Regions from separate parts of the Homo sapiens genome. Here all the other regions are linked to region 1. Evidence: fine-mapped expression QTL. A gene starts in region 1. Each other region holds a variant in brackets. All regions are shown on one strand. Distances are between the middles of the regions. Region 1 holds the start of MKKS (MKKS centrosomal shuttling protein). Region 2 has its middle 44 kb from the start of MKKS. Region 3 overlaps SNAP25 (synaptosome associated protein 25).

What was found. PIP is the estimated chance that this variant, and not a neighbour inherited with it, causes the effect.
Region 2: its variant is the best candidate, but not a certain one, in a credible set for the expression of MKKS in visceral fat (GTEx, PIP 0.88).
Region 3: its variant is the best candidate, but not a certain one, in a credible set for the expression of MKKS in tibial artery (GTEx, PIP 0.82).

Annotation. Positions count from the first base shown.
Region 1 is chr20:10,431,502-10,436,828 of GRCh38, reverse strand. MKKS (MKKS centrosomal shuttling protein) reads left to right here and starts at 2,607. Exons shown (of 6, transcript NM_170784.3): 1 at 2,607-2,721. SLX4IP (SLX4 interacting protein) reads right to left here and starts at 1,524. Exons shown (of 8, transcript NM_001009608.3): 1 at 1,376-1,524. It overlaps LOC128706665, which reads left to right and starts at 2,607. Exons shown (of 3, transcript NM_001394148.2): 1 at 2,607-2,721. LOC128706666 reads left to right here and starts at 2,607. Exons shown (of 3, transcript NM_001394149.2): 1 at 2,607-2,721. RefSeq lists enhancers at 1,371-1,420, 1,581-1,810, 2,701-2,760, 4,711-5,212.
Region 2 is chr20:10,387,909-10,393,235 of GRCh38, reverse strand. It overlaps the pseudogene SDAD1P2. Among named protein-coding and RNA genes, the nearest start is that of MKKS, 44 kb to the left of the region's middle. The variant G/A (reference allele first, on the strand shown) is at 3,079.
Region 3 is chr20:10,299,116-10,304,442 of GRCh38, reverse strand. It overlaps SNAP25 (synaptosome associated protein 25), which reads right to left. Exons shown (of 8, transcript NM_130811.4): 7 at 5,031-5,175. Among named protein-coding and RNA genes, the nearest start is that of SNAP25-AS1, 82 kb to the right of the region's middle. RefSeq lists an enhancer at 3,030-3,947. The variant G/A (reference allele first, on the strand shown) is at 3,064.

The DNA.
Region 1 (5,327 bases):
ACAAAATCTCTTTTCAACTTTTTGGAAAGCTAAATTGACGCCCTAACATCAAGTCAATGAACTAAAAGCACAGAAAAAAACCTGTCAAATATCCATTGCATTTAGAACATGCAATAAATTGATAATACACTGTGAATCTAGTTAAGAAGCACGGGTTGAACAAAGAATGGGCCAGGCCGGGCGTGATGTCTCAGGCCTGTGATCCCAGGACTTTGGAGGCCAAGGCGGGTGGATCACCTGAGGTCAGGAGTTCGAGAACAACCCGGCCAACATGGCGAACCCTGTCTCTACTAAAAATACAAAAATTAGCCGGGGGTGGTGGCGCGCGCCTGTAATCCCAGCTACTGGGAACGCTGAGGCAGGAGAATTGCTTGAACCCGGGGGGCGGAGATGGCAGTGAGCCAAGATCGCGCCACTGCACTCCAACCTGGGCAACAGAGCGAGACTCCATCTAAAAAAAAAAAGAAAGAAAGAAAGGGCTGTATCTTTAGCCCATGCCCTGAATCAATGTTCCTTGAACTTTAAGGTACACTTCTTGAGGAAGATTCTGATTCAGCAGCTCTGGGGTGAGAGTCATGAAGTGTAATTCTAACAAGCTCCCAGGGATGCTGATGCTGGTGGTAGGTGAAATGAACTTGGAGCAACAAGGCCCTAAGTAACTGGAATATTAGTTTTAACGCTAGCCAACTGGCTTACAAATATCGTTATGTCTAGGATCCAAGAAGTAAGTGTCAATACCATTAATTCCTACACCCGGCCAAAAAAATTAAAAACTAAAAATAAAAAAAAATAGTTCAGGGGAAGGAGAAAGCAAATACTTGTTTATACAGTCTAGCAGTGCTAAGAACCATAAAATACTGTTATTTGTCTCAACCTAGTAGATGTCAAGGTGATAAAATGTAGGCTCCATGAGTTAATGGATTTTTTTTAGCTAACTCCTGAATCCTTATGGCCTAGCACAAATTAGGTACTCAAGAAATGCAATGAATAAATGAATGAATGGGAAGTATATACAAACGCAATCTGTATTTACCTCACATCTCCAAAAATGTCTGGGAAGGGGGAGGTATTTGTACTGCTGGATGCAGGTAGCCATGATTTGATACAAATACCTGGCCCATCTACTGCATTCCCTTTGTGCAAAGACAGTTAACTTTCCTGAATAATATCTCCACCGTAATGCCCATGCTCATGGCATCCTGATGTTTAGCAACTTTTTGGCTTTTTGAAAACAATGAAGAAAGGTGGAAGTACAGGGAGAAGGATTCGGAAAAGTCTCAAAAAATCAAAGCCAAAAACCAGGAGGGAGGAGATGGGCAAACAGTTCAGTTCACTTGAAGGAACATCTGAGGTTGTCAGAGGTCCATGTGCTTACCTATGATGGTGGCGGGGTTTGGGCTCGGGCTTTATATGTTTTGTTACTGTCCAGGGTCACTGGCGGAGTAGTACCTGGCTGTGGAAACTCGGACTACACAGGTAGCCGGAACTGCAGCCAACCTTCAGAAGCTTAAGGGAAGCACTTTCGCGCTTACTTCCTCCTTCCCAGGGTCTCCGCGCGCGTTTGGGAACTCAGCCGCCGCCCAAACACAAAATGATCTGGGCAGCTTCGCTGCAGGATTGAGGCCACAGCCAGGATTTAAGATGGCAGCGAAACACTTCGATGGCCCGTGGAATCTGCCCAAAAGAAAAATGGCCTCTGTTCAGAATATCGCGGCTTTCAAAGTGGGCCCAAAACAAAAATGGCGCCGGACGCAGGCTATTTTTAAAGGCTGGGACCCCAATGACTCTCATTAGCAAATAACGTATCATGGTAACTCACGGTGCTAGGCAGTTGAACTGACCGAGAGAAAAAAAAACGCTTTTCTGTGGTGTGTTTTCTTAACATTGGAAAATGACTAGCTCAAGAATGGAACATATATTCGGTGCGAAAGATTGTGAGAAAGGAAAGGTAGCTTTCACAGTGCCGGATAAATTTTAATAAAAATAGCCATGTTTGAACATAACTTCCTATATGTTTTTTAATGTTAAAAGAGAATAAAAGTTTTGTCCTGGAACCCAGAAGCAGGATGGGGAAATGCCGGGTGAATTATCTAATCTGTGAAGAGTACGAGCTGCGAAACTCCGCACTTCCCTGTAAGCCCTCAGGAAGGACTGAGGGCGGATGCTTTAGTAGAAGGCAACTAGCTCTCACGGCGCATGTCCGTTTTCCAAACCCGATCCCGGGAGTTACGGGAGAGTAAAAATCCTGATTTTCCAGACAACCGCACAGAGAGGCGGGATACTGGCGCTGAGCGACAAATCCAAGCGCTTTGTAATTGGTCATGTCAGGACAGAGAGCAGAGCGCAGTGGACTATTTCTTTCTTTCATTCAATAAATCATTGTCAAGCGCTCACCAAAAGGCAGAAGCTGTGCCATTTTGATATGTTATTTAAATTTTATGCGTTCTTTTAAAATTTCAGTTTCAACAATTTGCTGGAATATACGCTGAATAAACTTCGCTCCCCGTTTTTTCCGGTGACGGCCGCTGTTGGCTGGAGCTTCACGGAAAACCCGGAGAAGCGGAGTGGGGGCGGCCCGGCGTCGACCGCAGAGCTGCGCGTGCTCCGTGCCCTCGCGCGACGCGAAGGTTGTCGGGATCCGCGGCAGCAGCGGCTGCTTGAGATCTGTTTCTGGGGCCTCTGGCGGTGGCGGCCTGGGGCGGCGCGACGGCTGGTGCGCAGGTGAGAGCGCTGGGACTCTAGGTGGAAAAGCCCGCTTTGTGTCCGGCCGAAGAGAGGGGAAGGGGCTTGTAGGCGCCTCCCTCTCCACCCCCAAAGGTCACCGGTGTCCTCACTGAAGGATATTTGAGGGCGGGGACAAGGAGGAGGCTGGCTCTCTGTAGGAGGCGAAAGACCGACCTCTGAAATAGCTGCCGATGGTAAATGTTGCGGTCGGCACGGATGCGGGCGGCGAGGAGGTCTTCCCGCCGGTGGGGAGAGCTGGAGGAGTGGCGCCTCACCACGCTCCCACCTGCGCTGCCGCCTTCTACGCCGAACCTGTGACTCCCCGTCCCCTCCCTCGCTGGGAGGGGCCCCGTGTGCCCCTGACTGTCTGGAGGGTGCACGGTGTACCCCAGGCTGTCGGGAGGTGGGGGCCGCCCTCCGACGGCGTTAGAGACGTTGTGCAGCGTGGCCCTGCCAGCTACGTGAAAGCAGCCGCGGGGCTTGCAGGGCTGTGGACCTTGTAGGGATGACCCTCTAAGGTCATGCTCGTCTTCCTCCCCGATAAGACCATACCCAAATCCTGTTGCCGTTTCAGAGACTCAATATGACGGTTTCATTCATTCATTAACATCTTCAGTTTATCCATAAACAGATATACACGTGTCTACAGCACTGCCGAGTTAGTAGATACGGCAGTGACCAAGAGGGACTTGCACGGTCCTGACTCCATGTTCTAGTGATGGGGGAGAAACAATACGCTCCCTATCCATGAGTTCCGCATGTGTGAATTCAACCAACTGCGGATAGAAAATATTTTGGGGCGGCGGGGTTTGGTGGCTCACCCCTGTAACCCCGCACTTTAGGAGCCCGAGGCGGGCGGATCACTTGAGTCAGGAGTTTGGGGCCAGCCAGGCCAACGTGGCGAAACCCGGTCTCTGCTAAAAGTACAAAAAAATGAGCCGGGCGCAGTGGCGCACGCCTGTAATCCCAGCTACTTGGGAGGTTGAGGCAGGAGAATCGCTTGAGCCCTGGAGGCGGAGGTTGCGGTGAGCGGAGATCACGCCACTGCACTCCAGGTTGGGCGACAGAGACTCTATTTAAGAAAATAAATAAATAAAAACATTCTGGGGGAAAAAAGATGGTTACATCTGTACTGAACACGTGCAGACCTTTTTTCTTGTCATTCCCTAAACACTGCAGTGTAACAACTACTTACATAGCATTTAACGTTGTATTAGGTATTATAAGTAGCCTAGAGATTATTTAAGGTACATGGAAGGAGGTGGCAAGTTGTGTACAAAACTACACGATTTTTTTTTTTTTTTTTTTTTTTTTTGACAAAGAGTCTCGCTCTGTCGCGCAGGCTGAAGCTGGATCTCTGCTCACTGTGCAACCTCCGCCTCCCGGGTTCAAGCAATTCTCCCTGCCTTAGCCTCCGGAGAAGTTTGGGATTACAGGCACCCGCCACTGCACCTGGCTAATTTTTGTATTTTTTAGTAGAGATGGTGTTTCGCCATGTTGGCCAGGCTGGTCTTGAACTCCTGACCTCAGGTGATCCACCCGCCTCGGCATCCCAAAGTGCTGGGATTACAGGCATGACCCACGGCGTCTGGCCTACTACACAATTTTTAAATCAGGGACCTGAGCATCTGGATTTGGGTATCCATCATGGGTCCTGGATGCAATCCCCCAAATACTGAGGGGTGATTGCACATTGATATTGAGCAAGATGTTTCTAGATTGTCCTAGGTTGGGTTTCCTGAGAATCAGACTCTGAGGAGATTTAGAGGCAGGACATTTACTAGAGAAGACTTTTTGGATGATTACCAAGGAAGAAAGGAAGCAGGATTGGGCAATAGAAAAAGTTAAGCTGCAGTGAAGTCTCAAGGATGTTCTCCACCAGTCCCACAGGAACTCTAGTGCTGGGTTGGCCCTTCAAAGTTGAAGAGAAGGGCCAGGCTTTTATACCCCTTGATTGATCTGTCGTTAGATGTCTGTTTCCCTGGAAAGGGCCTAACTTCAACTCTCTTCAGCCAAGTCAATCATGGACGGAGGCTGGCAGCCGAGGTCTGTCTCAGCTCTTCCAGGAGCTGGGGAAATAAGCCTTTCATTCCTTAGGGGGGTCAGGGTGGCACATCACAGCATTCATCACAAAGGTAGGGCTTTGAAGGAATCACGTGCTAGAGAATAATGGGGAGGGAGAGGGAAAACACTTTAGGTTGAGTGCTGAGAGAAAGGCTCTCTGAGTAGGTGACATCTGAACTAAGAGCTGAAGCAGAAGAATAAGCCATCCTCTGTGGACCAAAGGGGACAAGATTCTCTACTTTTCTGCTACGCACTAGGAATATAGCAGAGAAGACAAGTGGCTGCTACCTTCTGTTATCGTGGGTGGCAGTGACTAGTTTTTCTAGATCTTGACTCCCTGCCGTAACTAAAGATGGAGTAAGTAAAAATGGATTGAGACTAATTCAGAGGAGGATAGAGGAAAAAATGAGAACTATGATTTTGAAAAATGAGTCAACTTGGTAAAGACTTTATGCAGTTTTTTGTGCGGGTTTGGTTTGGTTTGGTTTGGTTTGGTTTGGTTTGGTTTGGTTTTTTGACCCTATACAGCATTGAGTTAT
Region 2 (5,327 bases), 44 kb after region 1:
ATCGTAAGAAATAGCTTTGTCATTTTCTACTATAAATTAATTCCTGATAATCCTCAGAGATGAATCTGTCTTCTCATATTTGAATGCTTTCTGGTTTTATTTTCATTGTAATGAATGCTCTGATGTAAACACTAGGATTGTGCTTTGGAAATAGTTTTAAAATATGAAATTAAATATGGTACATTTGCAGGTTTTTTGGTCCTATGATTCTTACTTTCTTAGAACCAGATTATGTTTCTCCTCATTCACAGAGGTTGCAGTGAGCCAGGATTGCACCACTGTACTCTAGCCTGGCCTACAGAGTGTGACCCTGTCTCAAAAAAAAAAAAAAAAATTTCTCCTTATTCATTCGATGAAGACCTTTATTGGTTACCATGTCAAGTCATTGTGCATATATTTTTCCTGTTCAGTTTCAATTCTTCCATTCATTTGTTGAGCTCCTAGTGTCATAGCTAGGGATACCATAGTAAGTATGAAAAGACATAGTTCCTGGCCGGGCGCAGTGGCTCACGCCTGTAATCCCAGCACTTTGGGAGGCTGAGGTGGGCAGATCACAAGGTCAGGAGATCAAGACCATCCTGGCTAACATGGTGAAACCCCGTCTCTACTAAAAATACAAAAAAATTAGCTGGGCTTGGTGGCGGGCGCCTGTAGTCCCAGCTACTCAGGAGGCTGAGGCAGAAGAATGGCGTGAACCTGGGAGGCAGAGGTTGCAGTGAGCCGAGATCGTGCCACTGCACTCCAGCCTGGGCGACAGAGCGACACTCCATCTCAAAAAAAAAAAAAAAAAAAAAAAAGAAAAGACATAGTTCCTGTTCTGATTGAGCTTAATGTCTAAAATTCACCCACATAAAGGCTAAAATTCACCCACATAAAGGTACACTTACAACTAAACTATTAAGAGATAATCAATCTGTTATTTTGCTTTGTTTCTTTTTTTTCTCTTTTTTTTTTTTTTAAGACAGTCTTACTCTGCTACCCAGGCTAGAATGCAGTAGTGCAATCTTAGCTCCTGGGTTCAAGTGATTCTCATGCCTTGGCCTCTCGAGTGGCTGGGATTACAAGTGTGTGCCACCACACCTGGTTAATTTTTTTATTTTTAGTAGAGGCTGGGTCTTGCCATATTGCCCAGGCTGGTCTCGAACTCCCAGCCACAAGTGATCTGCCCACTTTGACCTATCAAAGAGCTGGGATTACAGGCATGTGCCACCATGCCTGGCCTGATAATCTGTTTTTTAAGAAGACGTAATAGGAATAAGAGAGATCTTTTAGATATCAAGCGTCGTTAGAATTAATTAGAATCAGAGAAAAATGAGATTATTCCAGACAGAAAGAACAGCATATACAAAGGCACTGTTGTAGGAAGAAACATATGTGAAGAATTGGAAGAAGGTCACTGTGGCCAAAGCTTAGAGTAGAGAGCGAGAGCAAATACTGTGGAAGATGTCTCTGAAGATACAGGTTGCAGCCAGGCCAGGCCAAACTTGTGATGATGAAGGGTTTGGAATTAATCTAAAATCAATGGAAATTCTTTAAAAAATTTTTTTTTGTAGAGATGGTGTCTCACTATGTTGTCCAGGCTGGTCTTGAACTCCTGAGCTCAAGTGATCCTCCTGCCTCAGCTTCCCGAGGAAGATTACAGGTGTGAGCCACCACACCTAGCCTGCAGTTCTGACATTGTTTTAAGTTGAGGCAGGAGGGCAGTAGGGGGGAAATAGTGAGTTTGAGGAGGAGAGATTGGTTAGGAAGTTATTCATTAGAATAGTGAAGGAATTATGGCACATGGTGGTGTCAGTATACATGAGAGACACAGATAGATTCAAGAAACATTTAGCAGATGCATCCAGGAGTAGTTGTGATGACTTCAATAATCACAAATGGACAATTGGCAAGGCACAGTAGCTCATGTCTATAATCCGAGCACTTTGGGAAGCTGAGACGGGCAGATGGCTTGAGTGCAGGAGTTCAAGACCAGCCTGGGCAACATGGCGAGACCCCGTCTCTACTAAAAATACAAAAAATAGCTGGGTGTGGTGGTGTGAGCCTGTGGTCCCAGCTACTTGGGAGGCTGGAGGACCACCTGACTGGAAGCTGGAAGTTGCAGTAACCCAAGATGGCACTACTGCACTGCAGCCTGGGACAGAGCAAGACCCTGTCCCAAAACAAAAACAACAAACAAACAAACAAAACGAATGGCCAATTAGATGATTAGAGTTAACTCTCTGTTTTTAACCTTAACTCAATTTGATGACTGGAAGAGCACAGGGTTTGCAAGAGGGATAGTAGTTTTGTTTTGAACACAATGAGTCTGAATTGGTTTCTTACTAATCAAGTGAAGAGATTACTAAGACAGATCTACTGATCTGGAGTTCAGAAGATAAATCTGGCCTAGAAATATAAATATGAGTCAGTTTCATCTAGGTTGCTTAGTTTGGATGTTTGACCCTCCAAATCTTGTGCTGAAATTTGACCCCCAATATTGGAGGTGGAGCTAGTGGGAGGTCTTGGGTCACATGCGGGTGCATCCCTCATGAATGGTTTGGTGCTGTCTTCTAAGTAATGAGTGAGTTCTTGCTCTATTAGTTCCTGCAAGAGCGAGTTGTTAAAAAGAGCCTGACACCCCCTGTTTGCCTCTACTCTCACCACGTGATTCCTGAACAGGCCAGCTTCCCTTTGCCTTCTGCCATGAGTAGAAGCAGCCTGAGTCTCTCACCAGGAGCAGATGCTGGCGCCATGCTCCTTGTACAGAACTGTGAACCAAATAAACCTTTTTTCTTTTCTTTCTTTATTTTTTTTTTTTTTGTTTTAGAAGGAGTCTCACTCTGTCACCAGGCTGGAGTGCAGTGACGCAATCTTGGCTCACTGCAACCTCCACCTCCCAGGTTCAAGCAATTATCCTGCCTCGGTCTCCCGAGTAGCTGGGACTACAGGCGTGGGCAACCACGGCCATCTAATTTTTGTATCTTTTTTAGTAGAGATGGGGTTTCACCATGTTGGCCAGGATGGTCTCGATCTCTGGACCTTGTGATCCGCCCACCTTGGCCTCCCAAAGTGCTGGGATTACAGGCGTGAGCCACC[G/A]CACCCAGCCTAAACCCTTTTTCTTTTTTCTTTTTTCTTTTTTTTTTTTTCTTGAGATGGAGTTTTGCTCTTGTTGCCCAGGCTGGAGTGCAATGGTGTGATCTCAGCTCACTGCAACTTTCGCCTCCCAGGTTCAAGCGATTCTCCTGCCTCAGCCTCCTGAGTAGCTGGGGTTACAGGCATGTGCCACCAAGCCCAGCTAGTTTTGCATTTACTATAGTAGAGACGGGGTTTCACCATGTTGGTCAGGCTGGTCTCGACCTCCTGACCTCAGATGATCTGCCCACCTTAGCCTCCAAAAGTGCTGGGATTACACGCATGAGCCACTGCGCCTGGTCTTCTTTTTTCTTTATAAATTATCCATCCTCAGGTGTTCCTTTATAGCAACACAAATGGACTAACATGATGGTATTGAAGCTGTTCATTCACTAATTCATTCAATCAGCATGTTTATCACACTCCCACTATGTGCTGGGCACTGTTCTTGGTTCCGGGGATTCAGATAAATTTTAGAGTCAGCTTGACAAGTTCCATGAAAATCCTTTAAGATTTTAATTGGAATTGCATTATTTGTAAATTGATACCTGTATAACATTTAGGCTTTTCATCCTGAAAAAGGGTGTCTGTCTTCTTTACTTGAATTTTATTTAGTTATTTAATATTTTTGTAGTTTTTTGTTTATTTCATTATATATTTTGAATGTTTCCTTTGTTGAGTTTATTCCCGGATATTTTATAAGTTTTTTATTATTGTAAATGGAATCTGGTTTTTAGAGATGGGGGTCTTGCCCCATCACCTTGGGTGCAGTGCAGTGATGCAATTGTGGTTCACTGTGGCCTTAAACTCTTGGGTTCAAGCAATCCTCCCACCTTGGCCTCACAAAGTGCAGGGATTACAGGCATGAGCTGCCACACCCACCCAGTCTCTTCCTCTCTTTTTGGACCTCATTGCATTGGCTAGGACTACCAGTACAATCTGAATAGCAAGAGGGCTAGTTAGAGCTTCTTTTATTTTCTTTTGTGATTTTCCAAGTGATGCAGGATTTTTGCTCCTTAACTCAGCTAAGTCCGGGTTACTGTCTCATGGTCAGGAAGAATTAGGCATGTGGACACCAGAGAGTGAGTGGAGTAGAATTTATTAAGGAAAAGGAAAGCTCACAGCAAAGAGAAGGGTCCTGAAAGCAAGTTGCCAGTTGCCCCCTTCACAGTTGAATACAAGGGTGTAAGGCACGAATTTCTGGTGGCTCCACCCCATCCTTCCAGTGTGCCTGTGGGCCCTTGGTCTGAGCCACTCCATATTAATTTATATCCCTTGCTGTGCATATGTTACGGAATGGAATTTTCCACGTGGACATGTTTAGGCAATCCCCCTTTGCAAGTTCCCTTATCTGCACAAAGCATCTCATGCTGTGGAGCCAGTGGCAGATTCTCCGGGGACCCTTCCCTTACTGTCTGCCTAAAGCAAACTGGCTAAATTCTTTCACAAGTTTTTCTTTTTCTTTTTTTTCTTTTTCTTTCTTTTTTTTTTTCCAATTTGCATTAGAAAGCTTTTATTGAGACAAGGTAAACAGTGGGCTGAAAATATTACAGGCTGAAGGAAGGCTGAGGAAACCAGTATGAAGGCTGCTCAAATGATGAACTAAATACATTCCAAAGGTACTATTTATACTTAAGGCAGTTTTAAAAGTGAGGTCTTAACCAAAAATCCTTTACATGGCATTCAAAAAAAGAAAAAAGAGGGGGTCACTTAAATCTTTTGTATTGACTAAAAGAGTTAAATTATGTACCCAAAATCTGTACAACAAGGGCCTGTTTTCAGCAGGTAAGCCTATGTACAAGTAAGAACCTCTTACTCTTATAACATTGTCCTGTTTTCTTTTGTTTTATAAGAATATATAACTCCTATCCCCACAGAGTTAGTCCAAAAGGCCTGAGTGACCTCATAGAAATATGGAGCTACCTCTACTAGAGAACTATTTACACTGCGCTGTAAATACACATATGTGTGTCCACCCCCACAGCTAAGCTGTCAATGCCTTGAGTGAAGGGGTTACAGCTCATTGGTTTTATATCTACAGTGACAATTAACAGGCACTCAATACTTTTTTTTGCATGAATGATAAATGAATTGATTTTACACTACCACCACTATTTACATTAACATTCCCACCATTAGCCGTCTCCAAAATAAAAACACCAAATTGCTGCCACATTTTCAGCAGTTTTCACAATACAGTGCTTCTGGACTTT
Region 3 (5,327 bases), 130 kb after region 1:
TATGTCATTAAGGCTTCCAGTCAACAGTAGGCTACTAGTAGTTAAATTTTGGGGGAGTCAAAAAATTTTCAGCTGCATGGGGGTTGACACCCTAAATCTCCATGTTGTTCAAGGGTCAACTGTACTTTGTTCCACTCATTAAACTTTGACAACATCAAGATTAACAATATCAACTATAAAGTGTGTACTATTATTAGCTCACTTTTCCAAATGAGAAAAGCAGTCAGAAACGATCTGGGGAATTTGTCTGAAGTCTTAGTACTAATAAATGGAGAAACCAGAGTCTGAATGCTAGCAACCTGGAGTCAGAGTCCACACTATTCATCACTTACTATTCAATTTGCTGAGATCAAATGAGTTTATACACATAATGTGCTTGGAATAATGTTTTGCAAAACGAAGGGCTCATTAGTTTATCTTGCAATTATTGTTACCGTATGAGAACTTGGCTTGCTTCTGGGATGCTTAATAGTTTTTAAGTTGCATTTCTGAAGATTCATTTCTATGAGTTTAATAACTGTCTTTTCTTTAACAGATGCACATTTACTATGATTTTGTAACTGGCTGGCTTTAATCTCTTGGTTGATCTCTTTACTGCTTGGGTTATGTTTGCTGTATATGCAGCATGAAACCTAGGGCTGCTACCAGCATAAATCTTTAAATTCCAGAAAATGAATGATTCCCATCACCACTGAGAAAAATGCATCAGCAACCAGAGGTGAAGACAACGATTCTATGGAGGCTTTTCTTTTGTCCTTCCCTGACTGGTAATGCTGTCTATCCTTCTACAGCCTGGGAAGAAGAGGAGGAGGCTGCCAGGCAGTGTGGGGAAACCAAACTGTTTTTCTCTCAACCAGTATCACTCAATGATTACCAGCTTTGTACCTATTGTGGTGCTGTACTTCCCAATTTTTATTGAGCTGAGTCTTCTGTATTCAGTTCATATCGTGAATTCTCAGGACATTAGAATTATCCATGTTCAAATAGAAATTTGCAAAGTTAAAACAAACATATTTCCAGATTAATCATAACTTTGAATACCTGGCAATGGTTCTCTGTCATCTGTTTGGATAATTGACACTTGTCTTTTAAAATCAGTATTTACATAGTAAGATAGGGCATTGATTTTGATTGTTTTGAACTACAGACTCACATTTTTGACCTCAGGTTTCTCAATTGGAAAATGGATAATCTCACCAATTTTACTTGGTTCTTAAGCCCTCCCTTTCCAGCTACAAATGGTATCAGAAATAATGACACTTCAGTGCAAAGGAAAGTTACAGGATCAGAGCAATGTGAAATGTTCCTGTAGATTGAATTATTATGTTGCCAGACTAAATGCTCTGAAAAGCTCAAATGAGAAAAATAATTCATTTTAAAATGATGGCATTCCTGAGCGCAAACATTCTAGGATCTCCTGTACAAGAATGCACTGAGGGGCCTTCACCTGGGGATATTTGAAGTAGAGCATGAGGTTACTCTGTATATCCTTAAAGGATCTGGGAGGAGCTGAAACAGACTTATGTTCAATGAGCATCTGTGATTTCCACCTAACTTACTTCTGAAGCATATGAAAATTCCACCCCATGCAATATTTGACACAGAAAGTACTGCCCCTTTATTATATAAAAGAATTAGCTTCTTTTAAAAAAAAAAAAAAGTCTGGAATCTCCTTGTAGATGTCTTCCTGGTATTTGGAGAATGCCCCTATGATCACCCTACTTATATGCTGTAGGACTTTATTTATGATGGCTGTCCCATTCCAATTTTTATATTTCTATTTAGAAAATTCTAAATTTGCTGGAGTGCCCAACATATGTTACATGTTTGTCCTTGTGAGAAGGCCAGGATGACCACCAAAGAGCCAGTAAAAGTTTAGAAGGAGCTGTTCAGCCCATCTTCTGAACGCTCCGGGAATCTCTTCAACTTCAGACCATGCCAGGTGACTTTTAGAACCCAGTTCATACTTCCAGCCTGTTCTGATCCTAGGTTTGAACAGTTCTCTTACTATCCTTCAGGTGAGGCAATCAGGTCACAGAGCTGGTGAATGGCAAAACCCTGTTAGAACTCAAAGTCTTAGCTCTCAAATGCTGTGTTTTCTCACTGATAGAAGAATGTGAGGACTGCTAAAGAATCAGCCTCACTGTATTCCAACGTGTGCCTGTCATCTACCACTGACAACTTTATTTTTATTTATATATTTACTTATTAGAGATGGGATCTTGCTCTGTTGCCCAGGCTGGAGTGCGAGTGCAGTGGCACGATCATAGCTCACTGCAGCCTGGAACTCCTGGGCTCAAGGAATTCTCCTGCCTCAGCCTCTGGAGTAGCTGGGACTGCATGCCTAACTTACCACTGATAACTTTAAATCAAAGTTTGAACATTGCTAAGGTATTTCCTTAGCAACAGTTCCCATAAACCCTCTGATATAGGCTTGCTTCCAATTCAGTAAGTTTTCTGAAAAAATTATGTTTTTAACCTTAGAAGGTATATCTATATATGGTTATTTTTATATATGGTTTTTATATATATATAATAACCATATACATATAATATATATATTATATATTATATAATATATATAGTTATTTATTTATATATATAAGGTTATTATTTATATACATAAATACCCTTAAGCAGAAAACGAGATTTTTAAATAAAGTAATTTCTTGACAATCCATGAGGATGTATTGAAAATCTCATTGTTAAGGACTCCCAAAACTTCACTATTGATCCAAGTGATGAGAAAAGATCATGATTGATAGAGCTGGGTAAAGGTTGCTGTTGGGGTCATGAGAGATTATGAGAGAAACATCATAAGACTCTCCTTACCCCTACAGTGTGATTGCAATTACATCTTAGATATGCAGGAAACTTCCACATACTGTCCCGTTATCAGAAATGAGAACTTCAATGAGAAGGTGGAAATCTATTAATAATTGTGCAGTTCATGCGACATGATCATTTGGGGCAATGCTGGGTTGAAGTGGGCTCTATTTAAATCATGTGTGGATTTTGATTCTGGAAAAAAAAGGGGCTATTTAAAGTGCTGACTGGAAACTA[G/A]TTATTCAAAGGCAATTAGACCCTTCTCCCACTTAAATGATTCTGCACTCAAGGAATGATACAAATTGAAATAGTCATTATCCATCCACCTGCCTGGCTTCTGATTAAACCTTGTAGCTGCATATGTCTCTGTCTTTATAGTACACTGGGCGTAGAAGAAAAACCTTCTCCCTAAAGATGAGAACTAGAAATTCAAAGTGGCAGAATCAAGATGCCACTTGCCTTTCCAGGAACACATTTTCTTGCTTAAAGTTCAACTCTGTCAATAAGAGTTTGACCCTTCTATTAGTAAAGACGCTCCTTCTGGAACCCTAATTGGCTTTGATGCATTATCTAGCTGCATCTGCAAGTAAAGTGGGTCCATTAATAGAAAATGAATACTTCCTGTTTTTTTCAAATTGTTTTTTCTGTTGGAGGGCAGCTCAGCAATGATTTTTTAGTTCATTATTCTGGGCCGTAATGGGTTAGGTCAGCTTGTGTTGGCTCTAGTGAGTTTTGAAACTCTCATTATTATTCTAATATCTATTGATTTACACAGCTTTAAAAGCTTTATCATATGAAAGCCTTCTTAACAACGATAAGCATGCCATTACTTGCAAAAGTAAGCAAAGCACAAGTATTTTGCCAACCAACACTAAAGTTTGCGTAGTTTTCATACTGATCAGGCAAAATATGCAATCAGATATTTTTAACATGGAGTATGTACAACACAACAGGACAAAGTGTTCCCTTTATGCCTACTTACTCCTTTTTCAAGTCATTGGAGGTTGCTTGCATACCAAGAAACTACTATTTAGATTTATGATTCTAAAAATCTTAAAAGTATCCTTCTCTGCTCACCAAAATGGAATGAATTATTATAAGAAAATTTAGGATATCAGACAAAGAACTTCAACGTCTCCCAGGGAATAAACACACAACATAAGTTACCCACATTGAGTAGATTATAGATGTACAATTATCGTTAAATCTATAATGTCTCTTTTTCTCCTTTTTAGCATTTGGACATAAGAGTTTGTAATCAATATTCAAGACCCTACTGATTGAGGAAAGGGCATGAAACATGGAAATATAAATTATGTCGGAGTTCTGTGTTGTAGAATATCAGGTTTTGGTGCCCTAGGTCTCTTTATAGGAACGTTCCAGTGTTTCTTTCCAATCTCTTCTAATTTTAAGCCCCCAAACCCACCCCTTCCCAGTCTACTCCCTCCAGTCTTTCTTATGGCCCACGTTGACATGGTGGATCTTAGAGCCAAGTCTGGTGTCCTTGTGTAAACTCAATTTCATCATATAAAATTCCCTGTTTTTAGAACTGGGGATGTGAACTGTTAAACTGGAAATGGAACCTGGATATTTTTGAATTCTCATTAAAGCTTTGGCATTTATAAAAGCAAAGCTCATAATCATGTCCTGGCTATACTGACTATTCTTTCTCCCATTTTCTGATTCTATCCCTTCACCACCTCCACTTGACAAACTATTAATACTAACCATCCTTCAAGATTCAATTCAAAGTCAACTTATTCTGAGATTTTCCCGAACTTTGCCTCTTGAGATCTTTCCTTATCTAACCTTGTTTAGCATTTTATCTGTGGATCTCTTAGTGAATTATATTTTGAGTGATAGAAAATTCATCTGGAGGCTCGTAGCCTCCCATAGGCCGTGAATTTCTTGGCAGTAGGGGTGGTGTCTTTCTCATGTGTACATGGCCCACAGTGCCTAGCACAATGCCTGGCTGACAGGAGCCTTTGAGAATATTTGCTGGATTAAATTTGACCCTCTTATTTTCACTCCAATTCTGTTGCTGAGTCCTATATTTTTCTCTTGGAAAATGAAGAACATTTCCAGCTATCAGTGCGCCTGAATCCAAGGTCGTGTTTTGAGGATCTTGTTATGCCCTTCACACTTCCTGTTGGTCATTTCAGAAGTGACTCGCAGTAGGGACTTGCTGACTGCCACGTGCTCACCTTCTCCATGATCCTGTCGATCTGGCGATTCTGTGTATCGATCTCATTGCCCATATCCAGGGCCATGTGACGGAGGTTCCCGATGATGCCGCTCACCTGCTCTAGGTTTTCATCCATTTCATTTTCTCGGGCATCATTTGTTACCCTGGGATCCAAAGAGCAAGTTTTAGAAGACAGAGGGTGGAAAACATATTGAATACCAAGGACCCAAAGCATAGTGGAAATCTGTCGTCCTCTGGGCATCAACTTTATCTATCTTTAATCTCCATCCAGTACAAAAACACATTTTAGCTTTCA